7 linked regions of the Homo sapiens genome follow. The protein of the gene in region 1 interacts with the protein of each later gene in a biochemical or structural test. Each region holds a gene or a part of one and is shown on either strand. Other genes may lie near its edges.

What was found.
Region 2: the proteins of NCK1 (region 1) and NCKIPSD form a complex in vitro, tested with the Homo sapiens proteins (one study listed by BioGRID).
Region 3: the proteins of NCK1 (region 1) and ARHGAP32 form a complex in vitro, tested with the Homo sapiens proteins (one study listed by BioGRID).
Region 4: the proteins of NCK1 (region 1) and MINK1 form a complex in vitro, tested with the Homo sapiens proteins (one study listed by BioGRID).
Region 5: the proteins of NCK1 (region 1) and ASAP1 form a complex in vitro, tested with the Homo sapiens proteins (one study listed by IntAct).
Region 6: the proteins of NCK1 (region 1) and FGFR1 interact in a test that uses a peptide from one of them, tested with the Homo sapiens proteins (one study listed by BioGRID).
Region 7: the proteins of NCK1 (region 1) and PKN2 form a complex in vitro, tested with the Homo sapiens proteins (one study listed by BioGRID).

What each region holds. Positions count from the first base shown.
Region 1 is NC_000003.12:136,865,208-136,868,707, reverse strand, and holds part of NCK1 (SH2/SH3 adapter protein NCK1), read right to left. Parts: intron 1-3,500. UniProt on the Homo sapiens protein: Adapter protein which associates with tyrosine-phosphorylated growth factor receptors, such as KDR and PDGFRB, or their cellular substrates. Maintains low levels of EIF2S1 phosphorylation by promoting its dephosphorylation by PP1.
Region 2 is NC_000003.12:48,683,116-48,687,184, reverse strand, and holds the start of NCKIPSD (NCK-interacting protein with SH3 domain), read left to right. Parts: upstream 1-1,269; 5' UTR 1,270-1,377; coding exon 1,378-1,548; intron 1,549-4,069. UniProt on the Homo sapiens protein: Has an important role in stress fiber formation induced by active diaphanous protein homolog 1 (DRF1). Induces microspike formation, in vivo. In vitro, stimulates N-WASP-induced ARP2/3 complex activation in the absence of CDC42.
Region 3 is NC_000011.10:129,185,826-129,189,325, reverse strand, and holds part of ARHGAP32 (rho GTPase-activating protein 32), read left to right. Parts: intron 1-3,500. UniProt on the Homo sapiens protein: GTPase-activating protein (GAP) promoting GTP hydrolysis on RHOA, CDC42 and RAC1 small GTPases. May be involved in the differentiation of neuronal cells during the formation of neurite extensions.
Region 4 is NC_000017.11:4,839,840-4,843,339, forward strand, and holds part of MINK1 (misshapen-like kinase 1), read left to right. Parts: intron 1-3,500. UniProt on the Homo sapiens protein: Serine/threonine kinase which acts as a negative regulator of Ras-related Rap2-mediated signal transduction to control neuronal structure and AMPA receptor trafficking.
Region 5 is NC_000008.11:130,055,675-130,059,174, reverse strand, and holds part of ASAP1 (arf-GAP with SH3 domain, ANK repeat and PH domain-containing protein 1), read left to right. Parts: intron 1-1,098; coding exon 1,099-1,221; intron 1,222-3,500. UniProt on the Homo sapiens protein: Possesses phosphatidylinositol 4,5-bisphosphate-dependent GTPase-activating protein activity for ARF1 (ADP ribosylation factor 1) and ARF5 and a lesser activity towards ARF6.
Region 6 is NC_000008.11:38,458,636-38,462,135, reverse strand, and holds part of FGFR1 (fibroblast growth factor receptor 1 isoform 1 precursor), read left to right. Parts: intron 1-880; exon of another isoform or gene 881-1,029; coding exon of another isoform or gene 1,030-1,040; intron 1,041-3,500. UniProt on the Homo sapiens protein: Tyrosine-protein kinase that acts as a cell-surface receptor for fibroblast growth factors and plays an essential role in the regulation of embryonic development, cell proliferation, differentiation and migration.
Region 7 is NC_000001.11:88,830,773-88,834,272, forward strand, and holds part of PKN2 (serine/threonine-protein kinase N2), read left to right. Parts: intron 1-1,971; coding exon 1,972-2,079; intron 2,080-2,304; coding exon 2,305-2,385; intron 2,386-2,472; coding exon 2,473-2,676; 3' UTR 2,677-3,500. UniProt on the Homo sapiens protein: PKC-related serine/threonine-protein kinase and Rho/Rac effector protein that participates in specific signal transduction responses in the cell.

The sequences.
Region 1 (3,500 bases):
AAAAGACAAACTAAATTGCAGCAGTAAAACCTGTAAGAGATTCATTTTTTAGCAGATGATAGAATTCAATGGTAAACACTGGCCAGGTGCGGTGGCTCATCCCTGTAATCCCAGCACTTTGGGAGGCCAAAGCAGGCTGATTAACTGAAGTTAGGAGTTGGAGATCAGCCTGGCCAACATGGTGAAACCCTGTCTCTGCTAAAAATACAAAAATTAGCCAGGCATGGTGGCAGGCACCTGTAATTCCAGCTACTTAGGAGGCTGAGGCAGGAGAATCCCTTGAACCTGGGATGCAGAGGGTACAGTGATCCGAGATTGCCCCACTGCACTCCATCCTGAGTGACAGAGCAGGACTCCGTCTCAAGAAAAAAAAAACTCAATGGTAAACATGACAATATTATTTTTGTTAATGGTGTTAATACACCTAACAAGTATAGGGGAAAGAAACTGTATATAGACTTTATATCATTGTTTAAATAATTTACAATGTAAGGCTGGGCATGGTGGCTCATGCCTGTAATTCCAGAACTTTGGGAAGCCAAGGTGAGCGGATCACCTGAGGTCAGGAGTTTGAGACCAGCCTGGCCAACATGGTGAAACCCATCTCTACTAAAAATACAAAATTAGCCAGGTGTGGTGGCAGGTGCCTGTGATCCCAGCTCCTCAGGAGGCTGAGGCAAGAGAATTGCTTGAACCCGAGAGGCGGAGGTTGCAGTGAGCCGAGATCATGCTGCTGCACTCCAGCCAGGGCAAAAACTGCGAAACTCTGTCTCAAAAAAAAAAAAATTTACAATGTAAATATGAAGGTTCCCCTGCCCTGAAGTTTTCAATCTATGAGAAGGCATAAATACACAAAATGCAAAATAATGTGAGGCAAATAAGGCAAAATTACAAGAGATGAGAAGTAGTATGGTTTCATAAACACACAGAACTTGCGTCAGAAGATCAAGGGTTGAGTCTTTGTTCTGCCCCCATCACTAAATGTTTGAATTTTGGTGCATCTAGTCTATTTGTATTTCAGTTTCCTTATCTGTAAAACACAAGGTTGGATTCCAACATTCCAGCAATAATGCTCTATAATTCTATGATTCAAGTCCACACAACATTAAAAACCAAGGGAATACTAAAATAATAAGGGGTATGGGTTTAAAGGAAAGCAACAGACCAGGCACAGTGGCTCACCCCTATAATCCCAGCACGTTGAGAAGCCAAGGTGGGAGGATCGTTTGAGGCCAGGAATTCAAAACCAGTCTGAACAACACAGTGAGACCCTATCTCTACAAAAAAAAAAAAAAAAAAAAATTAGCCAGACATTGATGCACACCTGTAATCCTGGCCTTTGGGAGGTTCAAGTTACAATGAGGAGCTGTGATCAGGCCACTGTACTCCAGCCTGAGCAACAGAGCGAGATCCTGTCAAAAAAGAAAGAAGAAAGAAAGAAAGAGAGAGAGAGACAGACGGACGGACAGACGGATGGATGGACGGAAGGAAGGAAGGAAGGAAGGGAAAAGAAAGAAAAGAAAGAAAGAAGGAAGGAAGGAAGGAAGGAAGGAAGGAAGGAAGGAAGGAAGGAAGGAAAGAAAGAAACAAAGAAAGAAAGAAAGAAAGAAAGAAAGAAAGAAAGAAAGAAAGAAAGAAAGAAAGAAAGAAAGAAAGAAAAGCAAGCAACATAGGGAACAGGAAAAACATTTGGAAGACTGCACCAAAGGACCAAAAGCGAAAATTCAACAAATTTTACTTCATTTGCTACTTGGTAATTTAGGAGAAAAAAAAAATTTTAAAGACTAGGCAAACTGGACGGGCACAGTGGCTCACGCCTGTAATCCCAACACTTTGGGAAGCCGACGCATGTGGATCACCTGAGGTCGGGAGTTCAAGACCAGCCTGGCCAACATGGTGAAACCCCATCTCTACTAAAAATACAAAATTAGCCAGGCGTGGTGGCATGCACCTGTAATCCTAGCTACTCGGAAGACTGACACAGGAGAATCACTTGAACCAAGGAGACGGAGGTTGCAGTGAGCCAAGATGGTGCCACTGCACTCCAGCCTGGGTGACAGAGTGAGACGCCTCAAAGAAAAAAAAAAAGAAGAAAGAAAGAGGCCAGGCACAGTGGCTCACACCTGTAATCCCAGCACTTTGGCAGGCTGAGATGTGTAGATCACCTGAAGTGAGGAGTTTAAGACTGGCCTGACCAACACGGAGAAACCCCGTCTCTACTAAAAATACAAAATTAGCCAGGCATGGTGGCGCATGCCTGTAGTCCCAGCTACTAGGGAGGCTGAGGTAGGAGAATCGCTTGAACCCGGGAGGCAGAGGTTACGGGGAGCCGAGATCGCACCATTGCACTCCAGCCTGGGCAACAGAGCGAGACTCTGTCTCAAAAAAAAAAAAAGAAAGAAAGAAAGAAAAAGGAATGATACGAAGGTACAAAAATACAAAGAGTAAATAAGAATCAGAGATTGGTTTGGTTAGAGTGGACAGCTCCTATAAAGAAATAGTGCTGGCACTGATTAAAAAAAAAGAAAGAAATAGTGCTGGCCCCAGAAAAACAGGTTTGAGCAGACTGTTATTAGGCTATGAATTCTGAACTATACTCTGAAGATAACAGAGAGTTATCACTGGTTTCCGAAAAGTGAAGGATGTGTTTGAAGCATAATTCTAAGATTTAGGAAGACATACTAAGTAGAGAGAAAAATCAAGCAAAAAACCCAATTAAAGGCTAGTGAGTAGTTCAAAGATAAAAATGGCTGGCAAAAATCAGCCAATATTGTTACACGCATAGAGATAAAACCAAAGTTTGTGTCTGGGTAATTGAAAGCATGGTAATGTCACCAAAACAAAGTCAGCATATGGAATCAGTTTTGAAGGGAAGACTATAAATTCTATCTTCATTAGAGTTTAAGGTGAGGATCAGCCAGACATAAAGTTTCCTTAAATCTTTAAATGTCATATTTAGCCTTGTTGTCTTCCTAACATCACAGTATTTATAGAGAATTTGTTAACTGCTCAGTGATTTCAAAAGTTCCCTTCAATTTTACTTATTAATGAAATAATCATTTAATTTTCTAGTGCAGATAAAGAACATTTGGTATTTTTCTATATTATAAAGGTAAATTCTAAAAATTATTAAACCATGATTTTAAAAATGAACTGTATCTGTATTCATTAAGTCAAGTCTTCCTGACAAGTGATTTATAATAATCACATCAAATATACCTTCAGCTTTGAAAAACACATGGTGAAAAAGTAAAATAAGACAAAGTAAAAGTACAAAGCAATGAAAATGTAAAACTCTAGAAAATTTTTGAAAAATGAATATAGGCCAGCCACGGTGGCGCACACCTGTAATCTCAGCACTTTGGGAGGCGGAGGTGGGCAGATTGCTTGAGGTCAGGAGTTCGAGACCAGCCTTGCCAACATGGTGAAACTCCGTCTCTACTAAAAATACAGGCCGGGCGTGGTGGCTCATGCCTGTAATCCCAGCACTTTGGGAGGCC
Region 2 (4,069 bases), about 88 Mb from region 1:
CCATAATCCCAACACTGGGAGGACTGCTTGAGTCCGGGAATTTGAGACTAGCCAGAGCAACATAGCAAGACCTTGTCTCTACTAAAAAAAAAAAAAAAAAAAAAAAAAAAAAAAGCTGAGTGTGGTGGTGCATGCCTGTAGTCCCAGAGACAGTAGGCTTGAGCCTGGAAGATCAAGGCTGCAATGAGCTTGATCATCCCACTGCACTCCAGCCTGGACGACAGAGCAAGACCCTGTCTCAAAAAATAAATACAGATAAAAATAGAAAACTTGCACACACTGGCCTGTACACGCCTCCTGCTTCCTGGGCTCGGGCTTCCTGTGGAGCGTAGCTGGACCATTCTCAGCCACAGTCTCTCCAGGACCCTGAGGGCCTCTTCCCTGGGTCTTCCAGGCACTCTTATTACACGGATTTCATATATCTGGAGATCTGGGCTGACTGGAAAGCTGGGTGGATCAAATAGGCTCTTAAGGCCACCGTGGTACCCCACTCCCTCTTTCAGCCCTCCTCTATGCTCTCAGAAAGGGGCATCGCAAATCTTAAGTCCTATAAAGACAATAAAACACAGCAAGATGATAGCGATTGATGGGGGTGGGAGCTTGACGGACAAATACTATAGGAGAGGGAAGGGAAAATTGTCCCAGGTAGAGGGAACAGAATATGCAAAGGCCCAATATAGAGAAAACCAGCCATAGCTGAAGAGAGAGGAGGAGTAGGGGTGGGGAGCAAAGATGGGAGGGCTTTAGACAGGGAATAGCCCCGCCTGGTTTCTGCTTTTGTGGCCCCCTTCTCCCCACACTTGCTCCCCACTGGCCACCACCGGCACTCGGTGAAGACAGGTGGTGAGGCCTAGACACACCGAGAGCCGGGCCCCGCGGGGGCTTCCAAGTGTCGGATCAGCAAGATCATCCTTTCGAGGTCGCCGTCCTTGCAATTAGTAGATGGGACCCACTGCCCCAGGGCGGTAGGGGCGCACCCGCTACGAGCGGAGCGCGCTTTCACCGGGAGGTAGGACGGGACGCAGCGCTCGGACTTAAGCGGGGAAAGGGAGCAGAGGGCTGGACGGGTGAAACTGAGGCCGGGGTGAGGAGTGAGGGTGCGGTGTCCGGGGATGAGGGGCCTGGAGCCGGGAGGGACCAGAGGAGACAGCGAGCTGTCGACCCCAGCCCCGCCGCACCTCTTGGGGCCGCGCGGGGGCGCTGCTCTCCGATGCGTGGAACGATACAGCCCGGGGCGGGGCTTCGGCGGGCGGGCGCGCGCGCGCCTGCGTAGTGTGTCACGGGGCGGGACAACCGCGGCGCGGCTCGGCGCTCCCGGCCTGGCGTTGTGGCGCCGCAGCCCTTGCCACCTTCCCTGCACCTGCCCTGCCCGGCCTCATGTACCGCGCGCTGTACGCGTTCCGCTCGGCGGAGCCCAACGCGCTGGCGTTCGCCGCGGGCGAGACCTTCCTGGTGCTAGAGCGAAGCAGCGCGCACTGGTGGCTGGCCGCGCGGGCGCGCAGTGGTGAGACGGGCTACGTGCCGCCAGCCTACCTGCGCCGCCTGCAGGTGAGTGCGCCCCTTCCCGCCCGGCCTCCGCGCCCCTGGGGCAGGACCCCTTCACAGCCCCGCGGAACCGACCCAGGGACCCCACCCTCTCCGGGACCCGAGGCCAGGACCTCTATCAGACAGGGAGTTTGAGAACCTGACCCTGAGACCCCCGGACCCACGGGGACTGAGACCCCAAGTGTCAGCATCACCCACAAAAGACCAGGCCCTTGACAGACCAACTCCCGATCGACCAAAAGCCTAACTCTGGGACTGAGACTCCTCAGGACCCCAGACCCTTCAGTATCGAGTCCGCCATCTGAATGGCGACCCTGAGCCCCACCGAATCCTGGCCAATTATTCAAATCCCTGAGACCCCAGATCCTTAATATGCCCCTTCTCTGGATTCCTAGGACCCCACAACCAACCTCCCTCCCTCCCTCCCTCCCTCCCTCCCTCCCTCCCTTCCTTCTTCCCCCAACCCCGCGCCTTGCCCCCCGTTGGAGCCACCACTGAGACCTGGACCACCTTGGACACCACCTGTTTCCCTAGCCATTCTCCAGGTCCTCAACCCCCCAACTTGGACCCTAGAGCCATAGACACCTCCATCCCCTATGTAACACCCAAGCTTTGGTACTTCAGTGTCTTTCACTAGCCTGTGTTCAGCCACCCTCTAAGCTCTTCTTAAGTCTCTACCAACCTTATTTGAACCAAGGACCCATGCCCCTGCTGACACTGTCTGCTCCACTCCCCAACCCTGACTTCTCAAACTTTCTTGCTTTGAAAATGGGTTCCATCCCTACTTGTTCCCAGCCTGGAGTGGGGACTGCTCACATTGTGATGAAGTGAGTTCTTATAGCTTCTCCTGGTCTGATCGTGGCCCCATTTCCTTCCAGTGGAAGCTGCAGTCCCAGTTCCTGTTTCCCTAAGAGTAGCCCTGCTGCGGGGGTTGGGGTGCGTATCTCCAGCTGGTCTATTCTGACCACAGGGGGAAGAAGGGCCCAGAGCTGCCGGGCCTGTGCCAGACACCCCCGCCCCGTCCTAGTCCTTATCCTTTAGGAAACATCCTGTCCCAGCCCAGTTCAGGACAGAAATAACGGGATAAATTTGGAAGTGTCATCTGGTCTTACCAGGAAGGATGGGCCCTGGGGGCCTAGGGGCTTCCTCATAGACCCTTGGCGTGATCCCATCTAGGAGTGCCAGGGGTGGGAGTGGGGGCCGTGGACACCATGGCTGCTGTGTGTCAGACCCAACCTTTTTGGGAATGGGGTCTCATTGAAGGCCTCTGAGGAAAAGTCCTGTCTCTTCCCCTACTGGGCATAGGTCAAGGGCCTGTGAGTCCCCTGCCGCCAGCCAGGACCAGTGGGGCAAGGTGTTTGGGGAGGGCAGAGAGGCTACCATCTTCTCTGTCACTGTCTGTTTCTTTCTGCGTGTCTCTTTCTGTCTGGATTGCTGCGACTCTGTGCCTCTCTGCCTGTGTCGTTCCGACTCCACATGTGTGTGTTTTTGTTTCTTCCTCCGGCTCCCCCCACACTCTGGCTTTGGCTCTGTTTCTTTCTGCGTTGTTTCCCTCTGTCTGCCTCTCCGTTCCTCTCTGAGCTCCTCTCTTTCCCCATTCCTTTCTTTCTCTCTCTCTCTGTGTGTGTGTGTGTGTGTGTGTGTGTGTGTGTGTGTGTGTCTTCATGTCTTTCTATCCCCCTGTCTCCTCTCCCTGCACTCTGGCACACCTCATACCACCTGGAGGGCTTTGCTGACCTCTGTGCCCACCTGTCTGTGCCCATCAGGGAAGCTTCTCAAACCCATGGTGGAATGAGTTCATCTCAGCTCCGGGACTCCTATGTAGCCTGATGGACTACGTGTGCCAGGGCCAGGGGAGGGCTGGGGGTAGCTGGTTTGATAGCTGCTACCCTACACTCCCCATGTCAGATAGGCAGAGTAGACTGGATCCCTGGAATGTTGGGGATGGCAGTACAGAGCCTGGAACAGGGGCTAGGCCCCTCTCTCATGTTTATCCTTTGCCACAAACACAGAACTGCTTCCCAGGGTGGGTTTGGAAGCTTACTGAGACATCTTGTGGGGATGAGGGCCAGCAGCAGGGTTGGGGAGGGCAAGTCCCTTTGACCCATTCTCAGCTCCCAGGGCTTACAGAGGGCCCTTACAAGGACAGGGCTGTTCTGGGGTATGACCTTGGTTTTGTGAAAGATCAGCAAGATGCAGAGTGATGTATTAAGGATTCCAGATACTGGAGACTTCCTGTTTGGCATCTCAACCTGGGCTCTGAGCCAAGACCAGGGATAGACGAGGTATGCGCTCCTGGCTGCAAGCTGGGAGCCCCTGGGCTATGTTTTTGCTTTAGACCTCTGATTTTCAGAAACATCTTAGCCAAGAGCCTTGCTGTGGGGTAAAATCCTGATCAGGACCTAATATGTAATGTGGCAGCATGGGGGTCACCCTGTGCCTCAGCTCCCTGAGTGATACAGTTTGAGAACCCCATTCCATATTCTGGTTCAACTTTTTGTGCTATGTCTAGCATTCCAGGCTT
Region 3 (3,500 bases), on another chromosome or scaffold:
GGCTCAGAGAGTCACACAGCCCACATTTGTCATGGTGGAGCAAAATTTTGCAAGTGGTAGCACAAAAATTTGAACCCAGATGTAACTGACTTTGAAAGTGAAGACTTTAATGAAAGATTTTTGGGGCTATCTTCTGCTAAATGCTATTTTCTGCTAAGTGATAACTTATAAGAGGCTACAGCTGATATCTCAAGTTTTGAAATTCCTTTTTTTTGAGGAGGTTATGAGCATCAATGACATATAGATTATGTGACCATCATAAAAATGAAGTAATGAACACAATAATGTGACTTTTAAAAAATGTGACCTCTAGGACACCTAGGAATCATGAAAGGTTCTAGTTCTTTGGCATTTGAAGGTAGAAATGTTTATCATATGATTTTGTTTAGACTTCCCTAATACCACGTTATGGGCTGATAGACAGCCTGGCAAATATGACATATAATTTGAAGCAGCTACAGAGATGATATAGTGCTTAATTGAACCATATTTTTGATCACGATCTGTAGATGCCCAGATCGCTGATCTTCACGTATATCTCCATTATTAAGGCAATTCATTTTAAGTGACGAGAAAGTTCTGACTTTAGTTAAACTGGATGATTTGGTGAACATATTTTAATTGGGGGGGACAATGCCTTTATTGATTTATAGCATTATAGAACTAATGATACTTCATGCACTTGACTCGTTGGTTGGTTGCATTATTCATCCTCTACCTCAGGGGTTCCCAACCCCTGGACCGTGGACCAGTTATCTTATTTGGAAGGATGCCACAAGTTAGAAGCTATTGTGGCAGTCTAAGTAGGTAGTAAGGGTCTTGACTGTGGTATTGTACATCTTCTAGGCTCAAAACAGCTTTGAACTCCCAGGCCCAGGCGATCAGATCAGATCTAGATGATTTCTTTTAATGGCTCATTTCCCCTGGAAGCCCATAAAACAATTTCAAGATTTTCTGTTTTTATTACTCTGCCTGTTCTTTTATCTTCTGCAGAAATTCTTGATTTCAGGCTTCCCAGCCAGTTTTAATGATCCTGGAAGTACAGAGAGGTAGTATTAACAATTAACTGAGGCTGGGCATGGTGGCTCACACCTGTAATCCCAGCACTTTGGGAGGCTGAGGCAGGCAGATCACCTGAGGTCAGGAGTTTGAGATCAGCCTGGCCAACATGGTGAAACCCTGTCTCTACTAAAAATACAAAAATTAGCTGGGTGTGGTGGCGGGTTCCTGTAATCCCAGCTATTTGGGAGGCTGAGGCAGGAGAATTGCTTGAACCTGGGAGGTAGAGATTGCAGTGAGCTGAGATTACGGCACTGCATTCCAGCCTGGGTGACAAAATGAGACTCCATCTCAAAAACAAACAAACCTCAACAAACAAAAAAACCACACAAAAAAACCAAAACAAAAAAACCCAATTAACTGTATGTCCATAAATACCATATCACACCCAGGCCCATTTTATACTGTGTGGCTTTTCAAAGGCACCACATCTTTAATAACCTATTACTTATGATGTCAAAAAAGATGTATATTTTGCCCAAAAAGCTACAACTTATATTGTTTTGTAACCTTGAAGAAACATCTGGGATTTAGTTTAGCCCCTAAAATATTATTTTAAAAAATTATTTTTAATTTTAGGGGGTTCATAGTGGGTATATATTTTTATGGGGTACATGAGATGTTTTGATATAGGCACACAATGTGTAATAATCATATCATGGAAGATGGGGTAACCATCCCCTCATGATGGGATATCCATCCCCTCAAGCATTTACCCTTTGTTTTATAAACAATCCAATTATACTCTTTTAATTATTTTTCAGTGTACAATTAAATTATTATTGACTATAGTCACCCTATTGTGCTATCAAATACTAGGCCTTATTCATTTATTCTAACTACTTTTTGGACCCATTAACTATCCCCACCAGCCTCCCACTATGCCCCCACCACCCTTCCCAGCCTCTGGTAACCATCCTTCTACTCTCTGTGTCCATGAGTTTAATTGTTTTGATTTTTAGATCACACAAATAAGTGAGAACATGTGATGTTTGTCTTTCCGTGCCTGGCTTATTTCACTTAACATAATGACCTCTAGCTCCAACCATGTTGTTGCAAATGACTAAATCTCATTATTTTTTATGACTGAATAGTATTCCATTGGGTATAAGTACCACATTTTCTTTATCCATTCATCCATTGATGGACACTTAGGTTGCTTTCAGATCTTGGCTATTGTGAACAGTGCTGCAACAAATATGGGAGTGCAGATACCTCTTCAGTAGACTGATTTCCTTTCATTTGGGTATATGTCCAACAGTGGGATGGCTAGATCATATGGTAGCTCTATTTTTAGTTTTTTTGAGGAACTTCCAAACTTTTCTTCATAGTAGTTGCCTAATTTACATTCCTGCCAACAATGTGTGAGGGTTCCCATTTCTCCACATTGTTGCCGGCATTTGTTATTGCCTTTCTTTTGGATATAAGCCATTTTAACTGGGGTGAGATGATCTCTCACTGTAGTTTTGATTTGCATTTCTCTGATGATCAGTGATGTTGAGCACTTTTTCCTACGCTTGTTTGCCATTTGTTGCCGTCTTTTGAGAAATGCCTGTTCAAATCTTTTGCCCATTTTTAAATCGGATTATTACATTTTTTCCTATAGAGTTGTTTGGGCTCCTTATATATTCTGGTAATTAATCCCTTTTTGCAAATATTTTCTCCCTTGCTGTGGGTTGTCTCTTCACTTTGTTGATTGTTTTCTTTGCTGTGTAGAAGCTTCTAAAATATTCTTTTAACAGTAAGTATAACATTCACCCAACATACTCTCATCAGTGAATTTAATAGTAATCAGCAAAGTCTGATATGAACATCCCTTAATCTCAGAACATTTTAGGCAGTAATGGAGTCTAGCCATTAGGCTGTCTTCATAATCTGTGAAATGAATCTGTCTTAACCGTGAGGCATGCCAGTACAAGACTTTCTTGGTATTTTAGTAATTAAGCCCTTTGGGATGGAGTCCAAGGTGGGCCTTTCTTGTATCTATCTGTATGAGTATTTTGATGTTCAAGAAAGGCCCTAGAGTACACAAACGATATAGACCTGTATAAAAGTTCCTGGTTATTAGGTTGTTTAATTGAAGTTAAAAAGTTTAAACCCAAACCTAATTTTTCTAACTCTTGCATTTCACTTTGGCACTGAACTCTCTTAAATAGTCAATAGGACTTTCAAAAATAAATTGAAATCCCTGAAACATTTAAAGCTCTATTTATAAATTAGTTAATTTTCTTTTTTTTTAAATTAAATATGTCAAGTGACTAGCTTAGCAAGATGATATTCAGAGCAGGCAAAACCTTCCCAGATACTTAATTTTGGAAGTTGCGCTATACTTTTCTTTACATTAATGATTAGTTTCCATTTCCATGTTCTCATAATCATACATGTATTTTCTCTATTTGAAAATAAAATGATTTCTTTCACCCAGGTTTTCTCTCTCTCTT
Region 4 (3,500 bases), on another chromosome or scaffold:
GTGTTCTGTTTGAGGAAAGATCTAGAACTAGGCACAGAGGACACAGTGGTGATACAGTCTAGTAGTAGGGAGAGACATTAATCAAGTAATTATTTATTAATGTGTGTGTGTGTGTGTGTGTGTGTGTGTGTGTGTGTGTGTGTGTGATTGCAAGCCATGATAAGGACTGTAGTGAAAACTTTAACATGCCGTGGGCACATATAACAAGAGTTGTTTTGAGCATATGTTCTCAGGATCTCCTGAGGGCTGTGTCATGGAAAAAAAATTGCTTTTACGAGACAAAACTTTTATAAGACAAAAATATCTAGTTGATTGAGAGAGACGTAAATCATGTCAGAAAGCTAAACTGGCATTGCTGCAGAAAGATGAGATAGAGTTGAACCAGCAGGTAGAGTTTGGTGATGGTGAGAATTGGGAGACTCTGGAATGGGGCCATTCTTATGGTGAAGCATTTGGTCAACAATTGAGGGCAAGAAGCCTGAGGATGGGGTGGAAACTCCAGGCTTAATTCCAAAAGGATTTCTTCTGAATCTTCCTGTGGGAGGGGAAAAAAAATGGTTTATTTGTTTGTCTCAAAAGTTAAGAGCATGTATATGGAAAGAGCTTATGACTCATATAATCCTCATTTTTACTTACTGGGGGAGGGACTCTGGGTCCTGGGTCTGTAGTTTAGATGTGGCTCCTCAGAATGGGGTATATGAGAGAGGAGGGTGTATCCCTAGATGTTATTAGCCTAAGGGGTGCCTGGAGTTTGGAAGGTAGGTGAGTCTCACGGAAATAAGAACAAGTAGGCCCAGCCCTCAGCTTAGCTGCATGGTCTGTGGGAAGTGGGATTCTTTCTAACATTGGATAGATAGTGTATATAAATAGACAAGACTCTCCATTTACATTGTATACAAGTAAAGGATGAGTGGGGTGTGGAGGGGGAGTGTTACTGATTTTGCGTGTTTGAAAGGAAACAGGGTTGGGGAAGCCACAAGTCTTGGGCTTCCTGAAGGAGCCAGGCTCTGGGACCAGCTTGAATGTCGGGAGGATGGCAGCGTAGAAGACGGTGAGGTGGGCTGTGAGGAGAGTTTGGTGGCACAGCCTGTGGGAGGAGCCTGGGTGGCTGGAGAGAGATGAATGGAGGAAATGGGGACGAGCTGCCTAAGAAACGTGGTGATAGTTGGCGAGGGAGGAGACAGGAAGACCTTTGACAGAGGAGATAGCTGAGACCTCAGGTTCATCCACAGCAGGTAAATTCCAGGGCCACACGGGACAGGCGACGTGGGGAGTGTCTGTGGTCACAACTGGGGGCCCCAGCACTTAGAGCCTGTGACTCAGTATGTACACGTAGCACCAAATGCTTTTTGGTTCTGTCTTGGGCATCTCCGCACGGGCACTTCCGCCAGTGGTTTCTTCCATTGCCTTTGGGATGAGCAGGCCTCCTGAAAGCAGGCCTGATATTCTCTGGTCTTCTGACAAAGAATGGGAAATTTCTCACACCGTCTTGTTCCAGGAACCACCTGGGGATGGGATTTGAAGGGCTTGGGTTGCCGAATTGCTCCTAGAACCACAGGCTTAGAGGAGTTTTCTATGAACAGCGGTCCTGGCAGGGACAGACTGAGGATCGGTAGGGCTGAATGAAGACAATCCCACCTCCTTCAAGAGCCACCTCAACTTATGTTTTTTTCCCACAAAGCCCCCCCTCCGATTTTGCCAGCCTTTACTGATCACATCATCCACTTTCTCACAGACCTTACAATTTAGCATTGGCTTATATATTGCCTTATATTGAATAATGTTTTATGGTCTTGTTTTTCCTACCACTTCCTTATGTGTAGAGACTGTGATCCATATTTCCTCTTGATCCCTGTAAAGATGCTGAGCACACAGTAGGGGTTCAGAAATTACTTGGTAAGAGACATGGATCTAAGTATGTCTGTGACTGGACCTTTCCTACTAGATTCAATCCACAATTAGTACAGGGTGCCCAGTATATGCTGGGCACGGTGGGATACAAAGCAGTACAGGTGCTGACTCTGGTTCTCAGCCAGGGCACCGCTGGCCTCCAGGGGGTGTTCGGAAATGCTGAGGAGGGAGGATTAACTGTCTTGGGAGCACCGGGCACGGTGGCTCACGCCTGTAATCCCAGCACTTTGGGAGGCCGAGGCGGGCGGATCACGAGGTCAGGAGATCGAGACCATCCTGGCTAACACGGTGAAACCCCGTCTCTACTAAAAATACAAAAAAAAATTAGCCGGGCGCGGTGGTGGGCGCCTGTAGTCCCAGCTACTTGGGAGGCTGAGGCAGGAGAATGGCATGAACCCGGGAGGCGGAGCTTGTAGTGAGCCTAGACCACGCCACTGCACTCCAGCCTGGGCGACAGAGCGAGACTCTGTCCAAAAAAAAAAAAAAACTGCCTTGGGAGCACTAACGGCATTTAGCACATGGGGATTGGGGATGTTAACCATCTGGCAGAGTCTGGGACAGTGCATCGAAGAACTGTTTTTCCACCCGTATTGCCACTGGTACCTCTCATGAACTTGTTATGGACATGGGAGAGACCCGGGGAGGGACTGGACAGGTTTCTTCCATGAAGTAGGAAGTAGTTCCTAAGTCCCCTGTGTACTTCTTTCCAGGTAGAGAGAGGAATGTGGGCTCTAAATTACCCTTGTGCATGGCACATATCTAGCAGCTTTTGTCTGCTAGCATACCTCTGGAGGTAAAATAGGTAGGCTCCCAGCCAGACTGTAAGGAAGATTTTCATGTTCTCTTTTCACCACCCACCCACTCTTTCTTTCAAGGCACATTTTTAAGAAAGTGGCTGAAGCTTGCAATACTTAGTCTTTAGTTCTAAGTGACTCAGGAAAGAGTCTTCAAGAAAACAGTTGGACAGAGTGCCCCAAAGCCTAAGCAGCGTGAGGCAAAGATAGGCAGGTGCATGTGGCGTCTTAGAGAGGGGCCAGCACATCGTCTCTTCTCTGGGGTCTTTTCATCCTACACTTGTCTTTTTGAAGACAGAGGTGTGGTGAATGAATGTCATTACTTACATCTGGGGGAGTGACCAGAGACAGTAGAAGACACCTTGCCCTAGTGTATCCTTTCAGGGTGGACCAGTGGCTGGGAAGCAGCACAGCTGAGCGGGATGAGCTGGAGCTGTGCAGAGCTGCCTTCCACAGCTCGCTGTTTCCCAGTCCCAGTCAAGAGAGCAGAACTTGGTAGGCTCCTGGCCTTGGGTAGCTAAGGTTTGGAGGAGGTGGAGAGAGTCCGCCTAACCTTAACAAGGTCATTCCTCACAGTGGAAACTACCTGAGCCCCACGTGTCGAAGCAGGGTAGGGGGAACAGGCAGGATGTGGATCAGAAGTTGGTTTGGGCTGGGCGCAGTGGCTCATGCCTGTAATCCCAGCACTTTGGGAGGCTGAGGCAGGCAGATTACTTGAGGTCAGGAGTTCGAGACCAGCCTGGCCAACATAGTGAAACCCTGTCTCTACTAAAAATACAAAAAATTAGCCAGGCA
Region 5 (3,500 bases), on another chromosome or scaffold:
AAAAAATTTAAATGTTGCAGTAAAAGTGTGTCATATCAATACTTAAATTAAGAAAAATAAAACCCATCTTCCTGTAGGTTGGAGGCTGCCGTGTCTGATGGTGGATACTTCTGCTATTCAAAAGGGAACTCTCCCATGACTCCCAAGCACCACTGATGCAAAATTTTCATTTCATGCTACACACTATATAGTTTTATTATGTCATTTAATCTCTGTGTTATAAATTAACACACTACAGGCCTCTCAGTTGCTCACGCAGTCACTGCCACAGTTCTGCCAGGCTTCTCCAACCCACCCGCACGGCCCAGAAGGGAGCTCGGAAAGCAGCTGGAACTATCAGGGTGATTAAAGGAGAAACCAGGGGACAGAGAGGAAGAGGCACTCCACCCAAAACATTTAAAGAGACAGCTTGCTTTTTTTAAAATTGCCAATTAGCCAGGTGCAAAACAAAAACCCATCATTTAGAAGGTGATACCTCTATTTTCACTTTTCTATTTGCAAAGAACTGGAAGTTCAACAAATAAATGCTCAAATCAAAACTAATCAAAAATTAAAACTGTTTTAGGAACTGCATAGACTTCTCCGAGCCCCAGGCCGATCCTGCTGTGTTTAACCAGCATGTACTGACTTGCTGTTTTGCATGAGGGGACTGACAAATTTGTTTATGCTGCACATTCATTATGCAGAAGCTGCAGATTTTGCTTTACATCATGTTTCCTAAAAACATTTTTAGACTCTGCTGTCATTCTGCAAGCTGATGTGGGTTGGGGGTGCGTACAGAGTGCTTGATGGTTTTTGGTGAAGCTCAATTTTGATCCCTACCCATAGTGTTTGCTTTCTGGTGAAAATAACTTGATGATGCCCAATCACCAATGCAGGGCCACCCTGATGATGGGGGGAGAGGAAGGGCCTGTAGTTAAGAGTACACAGTATGCTGGGTGCCTGACAGACACTCTTCTTCCCGCCCTTCAAGGGTGAGGAAATCAAGGCTCAGCGAGGTTAAGTTACTGGCCAAGGTCAACCATTTTACAAAGAACCGCTGCTCTTTTTTTCCATTCAGTCCATTCTTTCAATTAAAACCCAGTTTCTTTCTTTAAGGGGAAAAATAAAGTGAGGCGAGTGAAGACCATTTATGACTGCCAGGCAGACAACGATGACGAGCTCACATTCATCGAGGGAGAAGTGATTATCGTCACAGGGGAAGAGGACCAGGAGTGGTGGGTACGTACGAATATCCATCCACTTCATCCGTACATTCATACAGCATGCCTGGGCAGGCACCACATTGGAGCCTACAGACAGTGCAGTAAAAGAGGGCTCTTGAGCACAAGGACCCTGTCAGCTGCATCACTCACCCAACAGCCATTGCATTTGGTGTCTTTTCTATGTCACACACTATTACATGCTAGAAAAACAGCCGTGGAGCTGGCCGGGCACAGTGGCTCACGCCTGTAATCCCAGCACTTTGGGAGGCTGAGGCGGATGGATCTCGAGGTCGGGAGTTCGAGACCAGCCTGGCCAGCATGGTGAAACCCCGTGTCTACTAAAAATACAAAAAATTAACTGGGCATGGTGGCACGCACCTGTAGTCCCAGCTACTCGGGAGGCCAAGGCAGGAGAATCGCTTGAACCCGGGAGGCACAGGTTGCAGTGAGATGAGATCACACCACTACACTCCAGCCTGGGCAACAGAGCGAGACTCCATCTGAAAAAAAAGAAAAACAGCCATGGGGCTTTGAAGACAGGTCAAGAGAATTAACATTTGTATGTACTTTACCCATGGTATCATGTAACCTTGTGAGTTGTAGGCATTTTCTGATTTTTCATATAAATACTAAAGCGGAAGAAAGTTGAGCATGTTGCCTGTGGTCCCTCAGCCAGTAAGCAGGCTAAGTCAAGATTCCAGATCGGCCCTGACCCCAGAGCCTATGTGCTTTGCTCACCATTCCACACTGTCCCCAGGCTGGGAATCAGAATGCCCAAGTTCCTGCTCAGGCTGAGCAGTTGACAAGTCCTCAGACTCAATTCTTAATCCAGTCTGCAGTTCTTTCTTTGTCAAATAGGCCAAGACACCTTCTCCACGTAATTTTAGGAAAAGATTAAATGAAAATATCTATGAAAACTCCTTTTACATTAAAACCTGCAGCTCAGGCATCAGGAGGGAAAGACATCAGCATCCTCATAGGCCCTGCTAGGTACCCAGGCTGTGAGTGACCTGCGAGGGCAGTCCACACATCTATTGGTTTTCACGTTGCCAGGGAGTAAGTCTCCCGATGGGAACTGCCAGGCCAAGGTACAGTGAATAAGCCACCTCTTCTGCTCTCCTTGTTGATCATTTCCTGACATCAGGGTGAAAATTCCCCTTCCTTGGCAGCCTGAGCCCCGTCCTGCCAAGAGGGACTCAGTTCTGTCTGCCAGGAAGGGACCTGAGGCTCGCAGTTGAGCCAGCAGTACCTAAGAATACCCAGAAATACATATGTATATACATGTGTGCACACACACATAGGCATGGGCACACATTCACCTTTGACTTTTCTTCCTTCAGGCCTAGACAGTGACCTCAGATTCTTAATCACAGCTGTAGGGATTTTGTTTGGACTCAACTGGGGCAATTTTGCCCTCCAGGGACATTTACAATATCTGGAAATATTGATTGTCAGGACCTAGGAAGGGGGTTGCTACCAACAACTAGTAGATGGAAGTTTAGTGGCCAGGGATGCCACTAAACATCCTCCAGTACTCAGGGAGCCCCCACAAGCAAGGATGCCAGTAGCACCATGGTTGAGAAACTGGACTGAAGGGATCAGCCTGGGGAGGCCCAGGGGTACCTCCAGCCTCTGTCAGCAGAGTGGGGCCAGCCCCTGGCATGAAGCCTGTCAGAGAGTCCACTTCATCTCATGACGAGGAGGTGGGCTCTGAAGCCCCCCCACGTGAATCAGTTACTAGCTCTATGGGCCTTGGATAAAGCATGTCCCTTCTGTAAGCCTCACTTTCCTCTGAAAAATAGGACATGATTAATCGTTTCTCACAAGGATGTTGAGGAACTCACTTTGTAATCTGTTAATATTATTATAATCAAGCAGTGATCATGTTCTTTGCTAAGCAACTGATGACTACAGCAGAGATACCTGCGGGGAATGGGAAGCTGTCATTGGTGTCCCTAGCATCATTCCTAGGGGACATTGTGTGTGCCACCATTACGTGCCTCGCCAGATGTAAAGATGGTGCCACACACACATGCTAACTGTGATGTGAAATTCACAAAGACCTCACACATGCATGATGCCAACTAAGACCACACGCGGTGGGTGGGCAAGCCTTCAGGAGAGCTGGGCAGGCCTGGTTGACTCTGTTCCACTCTTAAAACCACCTTCCTCTCTATCGATTTGGCATTGGAAGCCAATATGCACGATTTTGTTTTTTCTATTGAAGGCCCATTACATGATTCTCTTTAGTGCAATCAATACTAATCTAATTGAGGTAATTAGAAAATTTTTACA
Region 6 (3,500 bases), on another chromosome or scaffold:
TATAGAAATTATTGATGAGATACTTTACATTTTTTTCATAACAAGTTTTTAAGATGCGGTGTATACTTTTTACTTATAGCATATCCGTTAGCACCAGCCACATTTCAAGTGTGCAGTGGCCACTGTGTGGGCCACAGGTCTAGAATATAAGACATGAAGATGGAGAGTGAGAAATGCCTTTGGAAAGGTTGGAAGTTCCTGTCCTTCTGCTGCCAATTACCAAATCTCCTGAGAGTGCTATTAAGGAGTGACTCAAAGCACTACACAAAGAGAATTATAAATATCTTAATATTATATCTGAAATCCAAATGCATAATTCTTTACATTTGGTTGGTACTTTAGAGAGGAGAGAATGGGCACAGTCACCCACACCACCCATTTGAGCCTCATAATCACCTGTGATGTGGCTTCCTCTAGGTGGGAAACCGAGGCTTAGAACGGTTAAGTGACTATCCCAGGGTGGCAAGATCATAAGTGGAAGGGTGTGAATTCATACTGTCTCCAGCGGACAAGAATAAAAAGACCCAGGCTGGGTGTGGTGGCTCATGCCTGTAATCCCAGCACTTTGGGAGGCCACTGTAGGTGGATCTCCTGAGCCCAGGAGTTCATTACCAGCATGGGCAACATGGTGAGACCCCATTTTTATTAAATATACAGAAAATTAGCCCAGCTTCTCGGGAGGCTGAGGTGGGAGGATCACTTGAGTCTGGGGGATGGAGGTTGTAGTGAGTTGAGATCGTGCCACTGCACTCTAGCTTGGGTGACAGAGCAACACTCTGTCTCAGAAAGAATAAAAAGATTTGGCCATGAATTCGTCAGCTAGTTTTCCTTACATAATTTTTGGACAAGGAGATCTGACATTCATAGGTTTTTCTCTTAGAAGTGGGAGAGCTTCAAGGTCACGTGGTCCGTCCAGCCCCTGCTATCTCACCAGACACTGTCCACCCTGTATGTTGGATCAGTACTCCAGTGAGAAGACAGCAGGCACTTTCACCCATGCAGCCCATTCAGTCTTCATAACCACCTGTGATGGAGGCAAGGCAAGTATTTCAGCCCCCTCTGATGAGTGGGAAACTGAGATGTGCCCCCTCTCTGCTCCCCACCGAGGACCTCTGCATGCAGGCATGAATCCCAGGAGCCTAGCTGATATTGGAGAGACGGGGCGGGGGGAACCAGCTGCAGGGTCTTGGAGGAAGCTGCTGTGTACACCTGCAAGGCTGCAGGTTACATCTATCTGTCAAGCAGTGAAGGAAGGAAGTTGTTTCTAAGGGATTGGAAAAATTCATTAATTAGTAGAATGAGAAACTGAGGTGAAGCAGGAGGTGGCAGGGTCCCAGACAGCATGTTGGACTAGTGGCCTGTGTCACTGTGTTTTTTGCAGGCGGGTGGCATGGGGTGTATGCTGACTTCTTATTCCAGGAGTTGGTGCCAGGAGGCCAGGTTTTCTTAACATCCTTGTTTTACAGATGTCAAACTTGAGGGCCAGAGGGGTAGGAGAGGAAGAGACTTTTTGTACCTTTTTTGGGAAAGAACAAGAGGGAAGCTGGCAGATGAATTTGAAGTGCATTGACCAGGGAGCTGAGAGAGGGCGGTCTGCAGCCAGCCCACACCTGGGAGGAGGCGGCAGGCTTTTCTGGGGACAGAGTGGCCAAGTCGAAGCAAGCTTAACCATCTCAACATGACACCACTCTTTCCCATTGGAACCTGAGAACTTGTTCAGTATTCTGACACTTAGCAAGGGACCTGGGTTTTCTTGGTCAGGTGTGCGTTTCTGGGTGACAGGCCTGCATCAGGTGTATTTTCGGGATGTAGTAAGTTGTGGAATATGGGTTTAGGGGCATCCTCTGGCAAGCACTGCTTCTATCCCAGCTCTGGGAATGTGCCCCATGCAGTGTCCTAGATGGCCCATCTGTGGTCTGCTTCCAAGGGTCTTTCTTTTAGTTAGTTAGTTTTGAGACAGAGTCTCACTCCGTCACCCAGGCTGGAGTGCAGTGATGCAATCTCGGCTCACTGCAACCTCCACCTCCCAAATTCAAGCAATTCTCATGCGTTAGCCTCCTGAGTAGCTGGGATTACAGGCGTGCACCACCACACCCAGCTAATTTTTGTATTTTTAGTAGACGAGGAATTTCACCATGTTGGCCAGTCTGGTCTCAACTCCCCACCTCAGGTGATACTCCCGCCTCAGCCTCCCAAAGTCCCGGGATTGTAGGTATGAGCCAACATGCCCTGGCACAAGGGTCTATCTTTGACCAATGGAACTGCAAATCAAGCCTCTTTTGTTACCAGAGTTACCTTGGATTTACCCTTATCTACTTGGTTTGGATAAATTGAGTTTGCATCAGATGGAGTCAGGCTTGATCAATCCCTTATTTACTTCCTCCCACCCTGTTCTCTAATATCCAAAAACCTTGAGGCACTATTACATGCTAGCTACATTTCCTTGAGTAAAGTACTTAACCTCTTTGAGCCTCAGTTTCTCCATTGCATAAAAGGAATAATAAAACTTATCCCCCATAAGTTTATAGTGAGGAATGAATTAATTCCTCACTATAGTTCTAAATTAATTCTACTTAGGGCATCCTTGGTACATAGTGGGTGTTCAGTATTCATTTCATTTTCTCTTTTCTGATTCCTTTCGTAAAAGTAGAAAAATGAAAGAGAAATGTTGACTTCTCTTTTGATTTGAAATCATTAAAACATTTTAGTAAGCCTTGGGAGGGAGCTAGTGGTGTGGCATGTGTATCCCGCTGGCCAAGCACATGTGAACGAAGCCAAGAATCCAGGGGCTTTTCTGCCAGCCAGCACTGACTCACTTGCGAGGGGCCCTGCCTGGCTCGGGGGAGGCAGGGCTGAAGTACCACATTAGGGCATGTTCCGGGGAAGTAGATTCTCTGAATAACTTGGATGGCTCCCTGGAGCATTTAGGACAGAAGCCACCTGGAAAATAGAGATGGTCACCCCCACGTAGCCTTGACAGTGCCCAGAAAGTCTTGTCACTTGGTAAATGTTAACAGCTATGATCCGTTCTTTAAGACCCTGGGGAGTTTTAAGTTTTACCCCACCAGACCTGAGAAGGGTAAAGGGCTGCAGATTCTGTTCTTTTAACTGGGGCCAGTGTGAGCCATCTTTGACTCAGTGCTTGCAATAGACCTTGATTCTGCAGTGGGACCTCCCAGGCCCCCTTGCCCCCCGCAACTTCTGGACTCATATCCGTCAGACATCACTTGTCACCTTCCAGCATCAGGGAGAACTGGATCCCTCCTGGCTCCACACTCTTAGGCTCTTTGTAAGTAGCTGGTGAGGGTTTTCTTCTCTCTGCAAGGGAGGCTGGTAGAACTATGGATGTGATTCGTACAATTTTAGAGACAAAAAGAAAGTACCCAGGAGGTCATTTATTTCAGCTGCTTCATTGCATAGGTCGGGGAGTTGAGCATGGAGTCCAGCAGCTACTAACTAGTTATCTCTGTACCTGGCTTCCATTTACTGGTCCTTAGCTT
Region 7 (3,500 bases), on another chromosome or scaffold:
CTTCACAGTTGTTTCTTGCAATTTCTCTTTAGTATCTCCACAAGAGGGTAGCTGGGAAAAGAACTAAACTTAAAACTCATCAGTCTACTTCATAATTTTATAGCATTAGTGAAATGCTAGTGATAACTCCTTTTTAACTATGATGAAAGTAAGGTGTGGCTAAAGTTTATGTCAGATTTCTCTATTATTACAAATAATTGTAAACTCACCGGATATATTATACATGTTCAGATTTGTATACTTCTACTAGTTTTGATTACTGGAAAGACTCCAGGAATAAACAAACATCGCAAGTCCCCTTTTTCCTGTCTCAGATGGGAGTGAAGATACCAGAGAGATTGAACAGAATGCTGGACATGGTTTTAGATACTGTCAGTGTTGACATCTGAACAGACTATTGGTTTCCTTTAAATGTGCTGAAAACACATTTGTTAGCTTTCAGTTGTTAGCCCTGTTTGCTTACAATCTATTTGCAGAAAAAAGATACTACATATTTTAACAAATGTATAGATATTTCTTTGCTGTTCAGACTTGTAGAATGAGTTTTCAAGTAAAAATTGTTCAAGCAGAAGACCAAAGTGCTGTCTTTGTATTATCCATTGAAATTCCCATTGAGAATCCTAGTAAAATAAAATTTTCTTCTGACTTACTGTTTCAGTCCCCAGAAGAAATTAGATTGTCCATGTAGTACATTTGATTTATGTATTTTGAGTGTACTACATTGTCCCACGTAGTATATTTTATTTATGTATTTTGAGTGAGTGAATGAACAAACTAAGGTTTTGGTAACTGTAAGCTTTGAAATTTTCTTAGCTGTGAGCAAGATTAGAAGCTCAGCCTTAAGAAGTTGGATTCTGAATTTATTTTCACAGATTCTTAAAGATTGCTCACTTTCCCTGGATATTGCTTTCTGCTTATTATTCTTTAAAACTTAATTGGAAGCAAGCAGCCAAATCAAATCTAACGAGGCTAAGTAAGCCTATATTTCTTCAATAGCCAGTGAGAAAATAAGGTTCAAGATACTAATTCATTTCAGTGATTTTAAGGAATTAAATGATATTTAGACATTTGTTTCCTGATTTAAAAAATGACTGAGTGATTTTTAAGCCATCTGAAATTCTGAGGCAGGCAGTCACATTTGATAGACACGTTTTTAGCATAGTTGAAAGTTTCTCTCTTTGTGAATCAAATTGTCATACTGAATATAATGTAACTACTTTTTTATGTCTCAGGGTCATTATGAAAAATGATTTTAATACTGAGCTTATGGAAATGCCCTAAAACTTTTTGTGTTTAGAACATTAAAAATGCCTGGCAATGTGTGCTTTTTGGGTTCCTTTCAGTCTAATTTTGTTGGCAGCTGCTTCTTAATACAGTCATTATGCTTGCTAATCCATGATTGTGTTTTACCACCATTAATTTACTGTTGACTTTAAAATCCAAAGCACATTTATATCTGATGTATTTCCGCAGATTGCCTTCCTTTATTATAACATTTATTACCATATTAACCTTATCCATTTTCTTCTGTTTTTCCACAAGATTGAGGTTCTTCAGGATTTATCTATTATCTAAATATTCCCTACTGTCTGTTAGACACTAAAAATTGACTGTCTGGCCAAATAGGTGATTGAGTGAATGAAATAAAATGGAATGGAGTGGAATGAAATTAAATGAAAAGTCATATCATATATGAGATAGACAAGTTTTTTATAAGGGTCTATAAAATTTAAAGATTTCAGAAAGAGTATATGGTGTATTCCCTCTGTAATAGATACATATCTGTTGTCACTTCTTATAGTTCTTTTGTTGTTGTTTTGGTAGGCATGGGTTTATTGTTGTTGTTGTTGTTGTTGTTGTTTTGTCTGTTTTTTCTTTTTCACTGCCTGGATCTTGGTTGTACTTTGAATGGGTGATAAGATTTTACTGCCTTAAAACTTGCTTTAACTTACTCAAAGGTATTTCTTCTAGTCTCCCTTTCCTGGTGATGATGAAGAGGAAGTTTTTGACAGTATTGTAAATGATGAAGTAAGGTATCCAAGGTTCTTATCTACAGAAGCCATTTCTATAATGAGAAGGGTAAGAATTAAAATAAGGATAAGAATTTTTTAAAGACTACTTTAATTTTTTATACTAAAGAAAATTTCCCAGTAGAACTTTAAAAGCTGTTTTTCAGTTCATAAATGTTGCATGGCTTAGACAAAAAAAGACAAAATATATCTAAGTTTTTTAAAGTAATAATCCTTATCAGTGAATTTTATTCTATTGGTTTTATTTTAACTTTTTTATTTTACATTATGCTAGCTGTTAAGAAGAAATCCTGAACGGCGCCTTGGGGCTAGCGAGAAAGATGCAGAGGATGTAAAAAAGCACCCATTTTTCCGGGTAAGTGTGACTATTTAAAATTTTTTATGAAACTAGAGCGATTAGATTTAACAAACTAAACTAGTCATTTTTTATTTTATGATCCAGCTAATTGATTGGAGCGCTCTGATGGACAAAAAAGTAAAGCCACCATTTATACCTACCATAAGAGGACGAGAAGATGTTAGTAATTTTGATGATGAATTTACCTCAGAAGCACCTATTCTGACTCCACCTCGAGAACCAAGGATACTTTCGGAAGAGGAGCAGGAAATGTTCAGAGATTTTGACTACATTGCTGATTGGTGTTAAGTTGCTAGACACTGCGAAACCAAGCTGACTCACAAGAAGACCTCTTAAAAATAGCAACCCTTCATTTGCTCTCTGTGCCACCAATAGCTTCTGAGTTTTTTGTTGTTGTTGTTTTTATTGAAACACGTGAAGATTTGTTTAAAAGTACCATTCTAATACTTCTTCAAAAGTGGCTCCTCATTGTACTTCAGCGTAAATATGAGCACTGGAAACAGTTTCATGGAGTTTAAGTTGAGTGAACATCGGCCATGAAAATCCATCACGAATACTTTTGGATCAATAGTCTATTTTTAAAAAGAAAGAAAAAAACCACTTTTTTATAGTCCCTAGCTTTGCCATATGCCCGCCTTAAGTGGAAGGAAAGTTAATCACTTAACTATGTTTTATAAAAAGAAAAAAGGGCTTGGAATGCTATTACTGTTCACACAAAGTATGATTCTGTTTGAATAAGGCAAATGCTCCTTTTTTTAAAAAAAAAGACATTACTGTAATATCAAAAACCGTGGCAGTTTGTATACAACTCGGGGCTTGATTTTTTTTAAAAAAACAGAATGAATTGATGTCTTATTTTATAAATGTTCTATATTTATTAGGAGAAAACTTTATATTGCCTTTTTTATCAATCATGTAACAGGCTTATAGCTTTCCAACAGAGCTGCTTGCCAAACAATTTTTTTTGTTTATTAAACAGTGCTGAAACAAACAGGATCAGCATTTACTTAAGATGTTAAGAATGAGGACTTTTAATCAGCCGAACCAAGATATTGTTACCTGTATGCATTCCCAAAGTCTAGATGCTCAGTATGTTCAGTCATATCTTTCAG